2 separate regions of the Homo sapiens genome follow, and region 2 is linked to region 1. A link means that fine-mapping ties the variant in region 1 to the expression of a gene that starts in the linked region. Tissue or cell type: whole blood. Region 1 holds a variant in brackets; the other region holds the start of a gene. All regions are shown on one strand. Distances are between the middles of the regions.

What was found. PIP is the estimated chance that this variant, and not a neighbour inherited with it, causes the effect.
Region 2: SERINC5 starts here. The variant in region 1 is fine-mapped to the expression of SERINC5 in whole blood (INTERVAL, PIP above 0.99).

What each region holds. Positions count from the first base shown.
Region 1 is chr5:80,125,942-80,131,092 of GRCh38, forward strand. It overlaps a transcript of SERINC5 not described here. Among named protein-coding and RNA genes, the nearest start is that of THBS4-AS1, 45 kb to the left of the region's middle. The variant C/G (reference allele first, on the strand shown) is at 3,174.
Region 2 is chr5:80,253,740-80,258,890 of GRCh38, forward strand. SERINC5 (serine incorporator 5) reads right to left here and starts at 2,309. Exons shown (of 12, transcript NM_001174072.3): 1 at 2,157-2,309. The coding sequence starts at 2,183. RefSeq lists silencers at 1,792-2,071, 2,182-2,621 and enhancers at 2,475-3,408, 3,409-4,342, 4,343-5,151.

The DNA of each region.
Region 1 (5,151 bases):
TCAAAAGCCTTCCTGCAAACCTAGACTCACGCTGGTTCAGTTCAGAGACTCTATCAGAAAGATGAGGAGCTCATGAGTCATCCATCAATGTGATCTTGTGATTTTTCTTGTGACCACAAGACAAAGGAAGAGAAGAGTACTTTGGAGTCATTATGATGAAAATTCAGTTGAATACACTGGAAAGTCAAAACGAGAGGAGAAGGAGGAACCGAAAATCTGATTCAGTCTTGACCACCAAGTAGAATTGGGACAGAAACAATTAAGTAGGCACAGATCCAATTTGGATTATAAAAAGCTGGTTCATCAGGAAGGCCACTATAAAACCAGAAGCAAACGAAGAGTCAATTAAGTACAAAAGTTTTTACTATGACTATGCAGTGAGGTCCAAACTGTACTAAATTTGAAGTTCCCTGCCAAAGAGAAATGTAAGCTTCCCTGGTGGTATAAGTCAGAATTTCATGACATCAGCCAGATAACCACAAAAGAATATATCTTTTAGTGCTAGATGCTTCTAAGCCTTTCTCCACCCAACTAACCAACATTCACTTACTGATTTACTTATTTCTTTAACAAACACACTCCATTTCATAGCCACATTCTTTCAAAGCTGACAGGTTGAGATATATCTAAAACACAAAATCTCCAACATACATTTTCTTCTTCAATGTTGTGAGATGTATTTTTCTAAAACACTGTTCTGCACATACTACCATTCCAATATTAAAAACAAGTTAGTTATCCACTGCCTTTTTTGTACAAATGAAATTCATAAATTTTAATTTGGTTACAAAAAAATTTTTCATCAAAATTTTTGCTTATTTGTTTATATAAAAATGGAGACAGGGTCTCACTATGTTGCCCAGGCTGGCCTCAAACTCCTAAGCTCAAGTGATCTTCCCACCTTGACCTCCCAAAGTGATAGGATTACAGGCATGCGATACCAAGCCTGGTATAATTTAAATTTTTAATTAAAAATTGTTAATTTGTCTACAAAATAAATATATACTCATCATCAAAAACTTTCAAAGAAGAAGATTAAAATCACCATAATTCCAACACCCAGACACAATCACAATCACTTCTGTAAGTTAGGATATACTGACAGCCTATGTGACAGGGAAAAAACTAAGTTGTAAGAATTTTTTAAAAACCTCCTATTCCCCATTACAGTAGATTTTATTACTCAAAATATTTGCTGCCCCACCCTGGGGAAGATAATACTTCCCCACTTCATTGCATCAGCCTTAGAGATGTGGTTTGAGGTGTCCCTTCTTGTGGGAGGATTACATATTCTCATCTCCTTGACCTCAAGAGTGGCCATGAGACTTGCTTTGACCAATGCAATGATAACAGAAGTGATGTGTGCCACTTCGAAGCAGAAGCTCTGATTCATCATATGGTTCTACTATGTTCGTTCTCTCTTCCATGAAACCAGCAATATCCCAAATACAGACTGCTGGTCCCAGGATGGAAAACTTAGAGCAAAGCTACCGGTAGCCCACAATGTGAGCAAGAACTGAACTTTAGTCATTGTAAGCCACTGAGGGTTTTGGAGTTGCTTGTTACCACAGCATAACTTAGCCGACACTGACTGATACCACCTACCTCCAAAATGTCATCTGAGTTTTCTTTATGTCTGAAGAGAGCCTTTATGCATTGAAATAAATACTCCCTTTAATTTCAACTTATATTTTATATATTTAAATTATATGTTTTAAAACTTAATTTTGAAGACTTTAAACTTGTGTTAATTTATAAATCAGTTTTGTTAATATTTTATTATCTACTTTTATTTGGTTTTGATGAATGCCCAACTGGCTTGTAAATTTGATAAGGTACTCCCAAATATTTATCAAACTTTCAGAATTAAGTTTTAGACATTTCAAACTACAATCTAATTTTAATTGATTTCTCAAGGAAAAAAACAACAAAGCAGACTCACATTTCTATAGGCAAAATCTTAATAAACACTGAAAACATACTGAACTTAAAAAGTTTAACCTTACAAATTTAATAAATTATAAATTTAAAGATTTAACAATTTAAACATTTGAACATTATTTCAAACTTAGTTATCAACATCTTATAAATTTTTACTAATATTTTGAGTCTAATGAATCAGTCTCTTTACTTACCTTAAAAAGCAGAAAAATATACACAAAATACTATAATGGTTACAAAACTTATTTCTAGATAAAATTTATGACTAGACATAACTTAGCTTGTCTTCCAAGGGTCTTTGAAAGTATGTTTGTTTTCTGGCAATAAGAAGATATTTCCAGACTCATCTTGATATTTCCTGCCGTAAAACATGCAATGAATTTTTCTCCAGGGAGCCCAGTGCCCTCAGGGTCTTCTGGCTGGAATGCAGATTAGATGGATTGGCAAAGCAGCTGCTGGGGCCACAAGGGGAAACCAGAAATCCACAGTAATCTTTGACCTGACGTCCTTGAGCTGCTGAACCAACATCCCAGGTTTTTAAGTCCCTGTGGTCCATTTGTCAAATGCAATTCCTTACTGATATAATGGTTATACAAATAAAGAAGCCCAGAGAAAGCACTGCATATGGAAAGGAAAGATTGACCTAAAGGGGAAGATCTTGTGGGGAGGGGAGGCAGTGAAGAAAAGAGGAGGCAGGAAAGGGAACTGGGGAGAGAGGGGAGATCTGGCAGTTTCTGTGAAAGCAAATTAGTAAGGATTTTAAGAAAAGTTTGCCTTTATTCCATTGCCATAATGGGGATTAGAACAGTAACATCCATAGGATCATTGTGAGAATTATGCCAAGCACACATTAAGTGTTCAATAAACATTGGCTATCATTATTATTTTATTATGCTGGGCCTCCAGAATGGATTAGAGTTGCAGACTGGAACATTATAAGGAAATCCAGGAAGTCCATTCATTCTTACTCTTTCCCTCCCTCTCCTCTCTTCCACAATTGCTCCTCTGCACAGCTGTTTTAATCCTATATCTTTCTGCAGATTGGCTTTCTTTCTATGTCTGTGATGCTTAAAACAGTCACTAACAACATCTTTCAAGTTTCCAAACTCCTTGGTTCAAGACAGCAGCCATTTCGAAGAAATTTCCAGAAAGACACTGATTGTCCAGCTTAGATGGAAAGTCCACTCTTGGATCAATTAACTGAAGCTATGACAGGAGAGTTGTATGGAAAA[C/G]ACATGGCTGCTCCTACTAGAAAACTTCCCAAAATATGAAGGAGGGAAAAGCAGGGAGGAGGTGCCGCTGTGAAGACGTAATGGTAGGTAAACATTTGGGTACATTTCCTTTGGGTCCATGTGCACACGAGTACGTTTATGCATGTGTGCATAACTTGGATAGCACTGTATATAGGTTTTGTTTGTTTGTTTGATTGTTTTAGAGACAGGGTCTCCCTCTGTCACTGAGGCTGGAGTGCAGTGATGCAATCATAGCTCACTGCAGCCTGGAACTCATCTGCTGCACTCAAGGGATCTTCCCACCTCAGCCTTAAGAGCAGCTGGGATTACAGGTGTGCATCACCATGCCTGGATAAGTTTTAAAACAATTTTTTTGTAGAGACAGGGTCTCATTATGTTGCTCAGGCTGGTCTTGAACTCCTGGCCTCACGTGATCCTCCCACCCCAGCCTCCCAAGTAGCTGGAATTATAGGCATGAGCCACTGTGCCTGGCAACAGCTGTCTAAATTATTTTTTACAAGGCATTCAGAACACATTCAATAAGATATTTTTCTACAGCACTGTATTTATTAGCTAGGTTAACATTTCCATATATAGATGTTCTAAGTGAATTTAAATTATTTCTATTATTTTGCTTTTATGAACTCTATTTGAGTGATATTCTTGTAACTGAATAGTTGAAACTATTATTAACTCCTTAGGGAAATTCCTTAAATTGGAATTGCGAGGTCAGAAGGTGTGTCATTTTTTAACAGTTTTGATACATTTTGCTAAATGTGCCAGGCAATTTAAGCCACACTCCCACCACAACATACAAAATGCAGTCTTCCTCAATATCGTCTTCAGTGCTTAGTTGAAAATTAATCACCATTTGATAAGTGAAACAAAATTTCCTTAATTACTAGTAAGATTGAAGGATAGTTTCATGTTTTTTTGACCAACTGTTTTTCTATTATATTCTTATTGGTTTATAAGAGCATTTTAGCCGGACTTGGTGGCTCATGCCTATAATCCCAGCACTTTGGGAGGCCAAGGTGGGTGGATCACTTGAGGTCAGGAGTTCAAGACCAGCCTGGCCAACATGATGAAACCCCAACTCTACTAAAAATACAAAAACTAGCCGGGCCTGGTGGCAGGCACCTGTAATCCCAGCTACTCGGGAGGCTGAGGCAGGAGAATCACTTGAACCCAGGAGGCAGAGGTTGCAGTGAGCCAAGATCGCGCCACTGCACTCCAACCTGGGCAACAAAGCGAGATTCCATCTCAAAAAAAAAAAAGAAGGCATTTTAATTACTAAATATATTGCTGGTTGTGGTGGCTTGTGTCTGTAGTCCCAGCTACTTGGTTGAGGCCAAGAGTTTGAGCCTGGGCAATACAACAGGGCCCTATCTGTAATTACATCTTCCCGGTTTGTCGTAACCTTGATATAATTTGTTTTAAGTTCAGATACTCAAATCTCTTCTTTCCAGCACCTATCTTTATCTTTCCATATGCCTAGAAGGATATCATCCACTATCTACCTAAGTATCACCCTTTCCTATGTCCCATTCCCTAAATAGAGTTTAGACATTTCAATTGGCATTTAAAAGTCCTTCACAAGGCACTACGATGTCTTGTTTTTCACTACTGCCATCCACAAATCTTTCTTTTATCCATCCATTTGTTCATTTATTCATTTGTCACCTATTTACTAAGCACCTATTATGTACCAGGCATCATTCTAGACACTGGGGATACAGGAGTGAACACATCCCTACCCCTAAGGGAGCTTGAATTTTAGTGCCACTGAAGACAAACTGAAAAGGTAAGAAAATGTATATAGTTGGCTGGATGGTGATAAGTACTATAGAAAACAATAAAGCAGTAAAGTAGGGTAGGAAATTCAGGGAGAGAGTGAAATCTTACATAGAATAGTCAGGGAGAACTTCACTGAAAATGTAATACATATTTGAGGAAGAGTGTGAGGATGGTGACTGAT
Region 2 (5,151 bases), 130 kb after region 1:
ACCAGTACCATATTCATTGTTTCATTGTTTACATGTTTATGAATGATCTCCCCTGCCCAGATAGGCCATTGAGAGCAGAGATGCTTGTCTGACTTATGACTATATAGCAGGCTCCTGGCAAAAGGCAGGTGCCCACAGAAACAAACAAGAATTGGTAACTTCTGACGGTGCTGTGAGGTTTTGTTTGCTTTCCTTTCTTTTGAGATGGAGTTTTGCTCTTTTTGCTCATTGCCCAGGCTTGAGTGCAATGGCGTGATCTCAGCTCACCACAACCTCTGCCTCTGGGTTCAAGCGATTCTCCTGCCTTAGCTGTGTAGCTGGGATTACAGGCATGCGTCATCACACCCGGCAATTTTGTGTTTTTAGTAGAGATGAGGTTTCTCCACGTTGGTCAGGCTGGTCTCCAACTCCTGATCTCAGGTGATCCGCCCGCCTCTGCCTCCCAAAGTGCTGGGATTACAGGCATGAGCCACTGCGCCCAGCCTGTTTGCTTTTCTTTTAACTTCCTACCGCCCCATCCACAGGAAATCACAGTGTGATCACCATCACACAGCACTGAGGCCCACCACAGTGATGCCTCCAGCAGGCCTGGGAAAGCAGGGGTTAACTTTGATTTGGTTCTTTCCAAAGTCCTAAGAGGGGAGACTTTAGAAACCTGCTAAAACATCAACAGCAAAATAATTCTTTTACAAAACCCATTTGAATACTGGTAATTACAGAGCTCTAAATTAGGAACTTGGGAATGGCAGAAAGAGCCTCAAGGGGACTTCAAGGGACCAGGACAGATGCCCCTAAAGAGCTGTATCATTACTACGTAATAAAAAGTGTCGCATCATATTGGAGAAAAAGTATTTCAAAACGGGAATAAAAGATTTGCAGAGCTTTCTGAAAACAGTCTTTCCTGGTCCACCTTGTTCTCAAATACCTGGTAAGGTGGTGACCATTCTCATTCTCTTTCTCTCTCTGCCTGACACAGGGAAAAAAAATCATTTCGTCTCAGTCGTCAAAAGCCTCAATTTCCTCAACTCTGAAAAGGCCAGCTTTAATGTATGCCAAGCACAGTATTAGACCTCAAAAACCAAGACAGCTCCACGTGGCCACTCTAAACAGGACAGATTATCTGCCAGTATAATCGCCGGTTACAGAAACCCACAGTTTAACCACTCCATCACTTACAGCTGGCCTCGATTGTGGAAAGGCTGAGTGTCAGCAAGAACACCCCGAACCAGGATGCTCCCTAGAGTCTGATTCGTTCGTGAAAACACTCCATTAAAACTCTGTACCGAAACGCTGATAATCCACATGTAAAGGGAGAAAAGAGCTCCACATCCAAGAGACTCACCTACTTCGTTTTTTCTAACTCTGCAGGAAGGAGTGAAACCAGCATTACAGGGCTAAGACGTACTAATTCTACACTGATGCAGTAACTGGTAGGAGACATAATGTTTTAAGACATCATAGGTTTAAATAGGCGAGAGTTAAAAAACAGGTTCGAACAAGTTTATTTGCAAAGAGAGGCAGGAAGGTTCCAGCCCTACCCAGGCAGTCGTGCTAGTACCGAGCCAGGGTTGGGTCGGGAAATTCAGGAAGCAGGGCTGAGTTTTCCCTTCGCCCAGACCTGCGCCCGGTAGTTTGGAAGTCAGGCTTCGAGACATTCTCAAAGGTACAGAGCCCACGCTCGACTACGAGATGCCAAGCGCAACCTGCCTGGGTTGTTTGACCCGAGTTTTATTCAGGGCATAGCAAAGGAGACGGTGCCTAAACCCACTTTTCTTCCTGGATTCATCCGACAAGCAGAGTGGAGAGGGCTACGGAGCTCAGCGCTATTCACCAGTGCTCGGCGCAAGAGGCGACACGCCCCTGGAGCAGTCGGGATCCTCCGCCCGAGCCCGGCACGCCCCGCTCCACGCGGAGTCCCGGAGGCCGGACGGGAAGACCCCGGGGTAGCCTCTCGGGCTTCCCCCTGCCCCTTCCCGCCCGCCCAGGGCACAGGATTTCCCGGACGGCTGAGCGCCGCGGGGCCAGCCCGAGCGACCCACCCGGGCCCTACGTTCGGCCGCGGAGCTGGGAGCGCACCCAGGCAGGTCCTCCACGCCTGGACTCCTGGCCCGGTTCTCCGATCTGACAACCCCCGCGCTGCGCCCGGCCTCGCTCACCTGGCCCGCACAGCACTGAGCTGACATCGCGGCGGCCAATGCCGAAGGCGCGCTCGCTGGCTCCCCGCGCCGCACGGGCCCTCCTGGCTGCCTCGCGCCTCGAGCGCTGGGCTCAGCCGCAGCTCACACTTGAACGAAGATCAGCCTCGGCGAAGCGCCTAGGCGCCGAGGCCTGGGTAAAAACAACTGCGGCCAAGCCCCGCCCCGCCGCCGGCCCCGCCTCGCCCGCCCCCAGCCCCGCCCCGTGCCCGCCCCTTCCCGGGCGCCCGGCGGCGGAGCAGGCTCGACCCGGGCTCGCACTTCCGCTGGCGTCAGGCGGGTGGGCTGCTGCGATCACTTCCCGGTTGGGGCGCCGAGCTCCGGAGTCGGCCGCCAGCCTTTGGGCCCCACGCTCCGGGTCTGGTGCGCGGTCTGGCCGCGCTCGGGCCCTCGCCAAATGAGAGCGCAGCGCCTCTCCGCCTTCGGATCCAGAGAAAGAGCTTGTTGCTGCCTCTAAAAGGTTGGAGCCTTAGTAAGCGGTTCCTGCCTTTCCTGCACAGACCAGACCGCCGGGTGCTGGTCTGCGCTCTGCCGCGCGCCGACTGGGACAGCCCACCCACGAGATCCTTGTTCCTGAAATCCCTTTCCTTCCCTCATCTGCCAAGAAAACTTTCAACTTTTGGGCTCTCCGCGCCTCCCAAGCTTCCTCGAATCCCTGGGCCCTTGACTGTTCTGCCCTGATGGCACTTGGTGAGAGATCCATTGAGAGCCCTTTCCGTGCCTTCCTGAATATTGATATGTTTTCCAGCCTCTCCTCCTGCGCTGGCCCAAGGACTCATTTTCCGTCCCTGCTTCCTCACTAAAAAGAGGGTGCCCAATAATTGCTTGTTCCATACAGAAGGCAGGGAGGCCGTCTCTAGGTTTTCTCCCACTCAGATCTGCTGTCCTCACAGCCACCTCCCCAAGAGGAATGAAGGTATTTCTTTTTTTTTTTTCTTTTTTTTCTCTGAGACGGAGCTTCACTCTGTCGCCCAGGCTGGAGTGCAGTGACGCGATCTCGGCTCACTGCAACCTCTGCCTCCCGAGTAGCTGGGATTACAGGCGCCTGCCACCACGCCCGGCTAATTTTTTGTATTTTTAGTAGAGACGGGGTTTCACCATCTTGGCCAGGCTGGTCTCGAACTCCTGACCTCAGGTGATCCGCCCGCCTCGGCCTCCCAAAGTGCTGGGATTACAGGCGTGAGCCACCGCGCCCTGCCGGAATGAAGATATTTCTGTTAGTGCGATTTTTGCGCCAATCCCTTTGCTCTTTCAAATAAGCATTACCGTACCCATTTTAGCGGTGAGGCAACTGAAGCCCAGAGAGGTTAAATAACTTGCCCAAAGCCTCACAGCAAAGTTGAGGAAGTAAAACTGGGCCTGGAATCCACTCGTCTGATCCCCTGGCACATGACGCAAGGCTTGACCTTAGAGGGACTCGTTTCCAGACAGAGCTCTGGCAAAGGAGTGTCTTGGGCAGCTTAGGAGTAGAAGAGGAAAGGTGAATGGAAACCAGGCCTTGGGTTATGAGCTGCGCAGGATTTTCCAGCATCTCAGATGCAGGCGTTTAGAGAAAGAGATATAATGGAGCAGGCCCTACTCAGAGCCACGAAAAGGAATGAGGACAGTTGGCTCTAACTCAAAACAAAAATAGGGTAAACCCAATCAGTCAAGCGCAGCAACCTGCTCCGTGGCGATCTGTGACTCATCAGAAGCTGAGGCTCTCACCAGGACTTTCTAATGAGCTTCGCTGTTGGCTACGACCGCGGTCACTTCACTTCAGCCCTACTCCTGGCCTGGGGAAATGGGCAGGCCCCCTAGTAGCTCGGGGTGGGGAGACGGGTGGAGAGGAAGGAGGGGCGAAAAGGGAAGGCGCGAAATCTACAAATGTTTAAGCCAGCTGGAACTCCGATGCCTCTTTGCCTTTTAGGGAAATTGACTCGACTCGGAACTCGAGGACCTTTCACAAGAGACCACTGGGTTAGGGGGCAGAGCTGGTAATAGAATCCAGCGCTCCGAACCCTGAATCATGTCCTCTTTTTGCTGCTGAGGCTCAGGCCACAGCACCCCAAATTATGACTGTAGAATACCAAAATATGCTATCCCAAAATACACTTGTTTGGCACATTTCAAGCTGGTTATTCTGAGAAACTGCAGACACGGGAGTAGCTCTGAAAAGCTGTCCTTTTGTAAAGCAAATTTACATCTATAAAGGAAGTCCACATAGTAAAAGTATCTGTGTCAGGAAGGCAGCTGCTCAGAGAACTTTTATTACATGAGAGACTTTACATAACAAGGCAACTTTTTTTTTTTTTTTTTTTTTTTTTTTTGAGGCAGAGTCTCGCTCAGTCGCCCAGGCTGGAGTGCATTGGCATGATCCCGGCTCACTGCAACCTCCGCCCCCCGGGTTCAAGCGATTCTCCGGCCTCAGCCTCTGAAGTAGCCGGGATTACAGGCGCGCGCCACCGCGCCCGGGTAATTTTTGTATTTTTAGTAGAGACGGGGTTTCACCATGTTGGTCAGGCTGGTCTCGAACTCCTGACCTCGTGATCCGCCCACCTCGGCCTCCCAAAGTGCTGGGATTACAGGTGTGAGCCACCGCGCGCAGCCACAAGGCAACATTATTTACCATACATTTCCTCCACTAACCCTCCTATATCCTACCTGTGGTGCCTCCCCACTGTCCCCACAGAAGCCCCAAGCCCTTATTTATTTCTAGCTCAGAATGCTATAAGCTTCAATCATCTGGCCCTTCATGTTTTGTGAGATTCCTGTGCTGCTGCGTATGCAGGTAATTAAAACGGTTTTTCTTCTGTTAATCTGTCTTATGTCGGCCAGGCGTGGTGGCTCATGCCTGTAATCCCAGCACTTTGGGAGGCCGAGGTGGGCGGATCACGAGGTCAGGAGTTTGAGACCAGCCTGACCAACATGGTGCAACCCCATCTCTACTAAAAATACAAAAGAAGTAGCCGGGCGA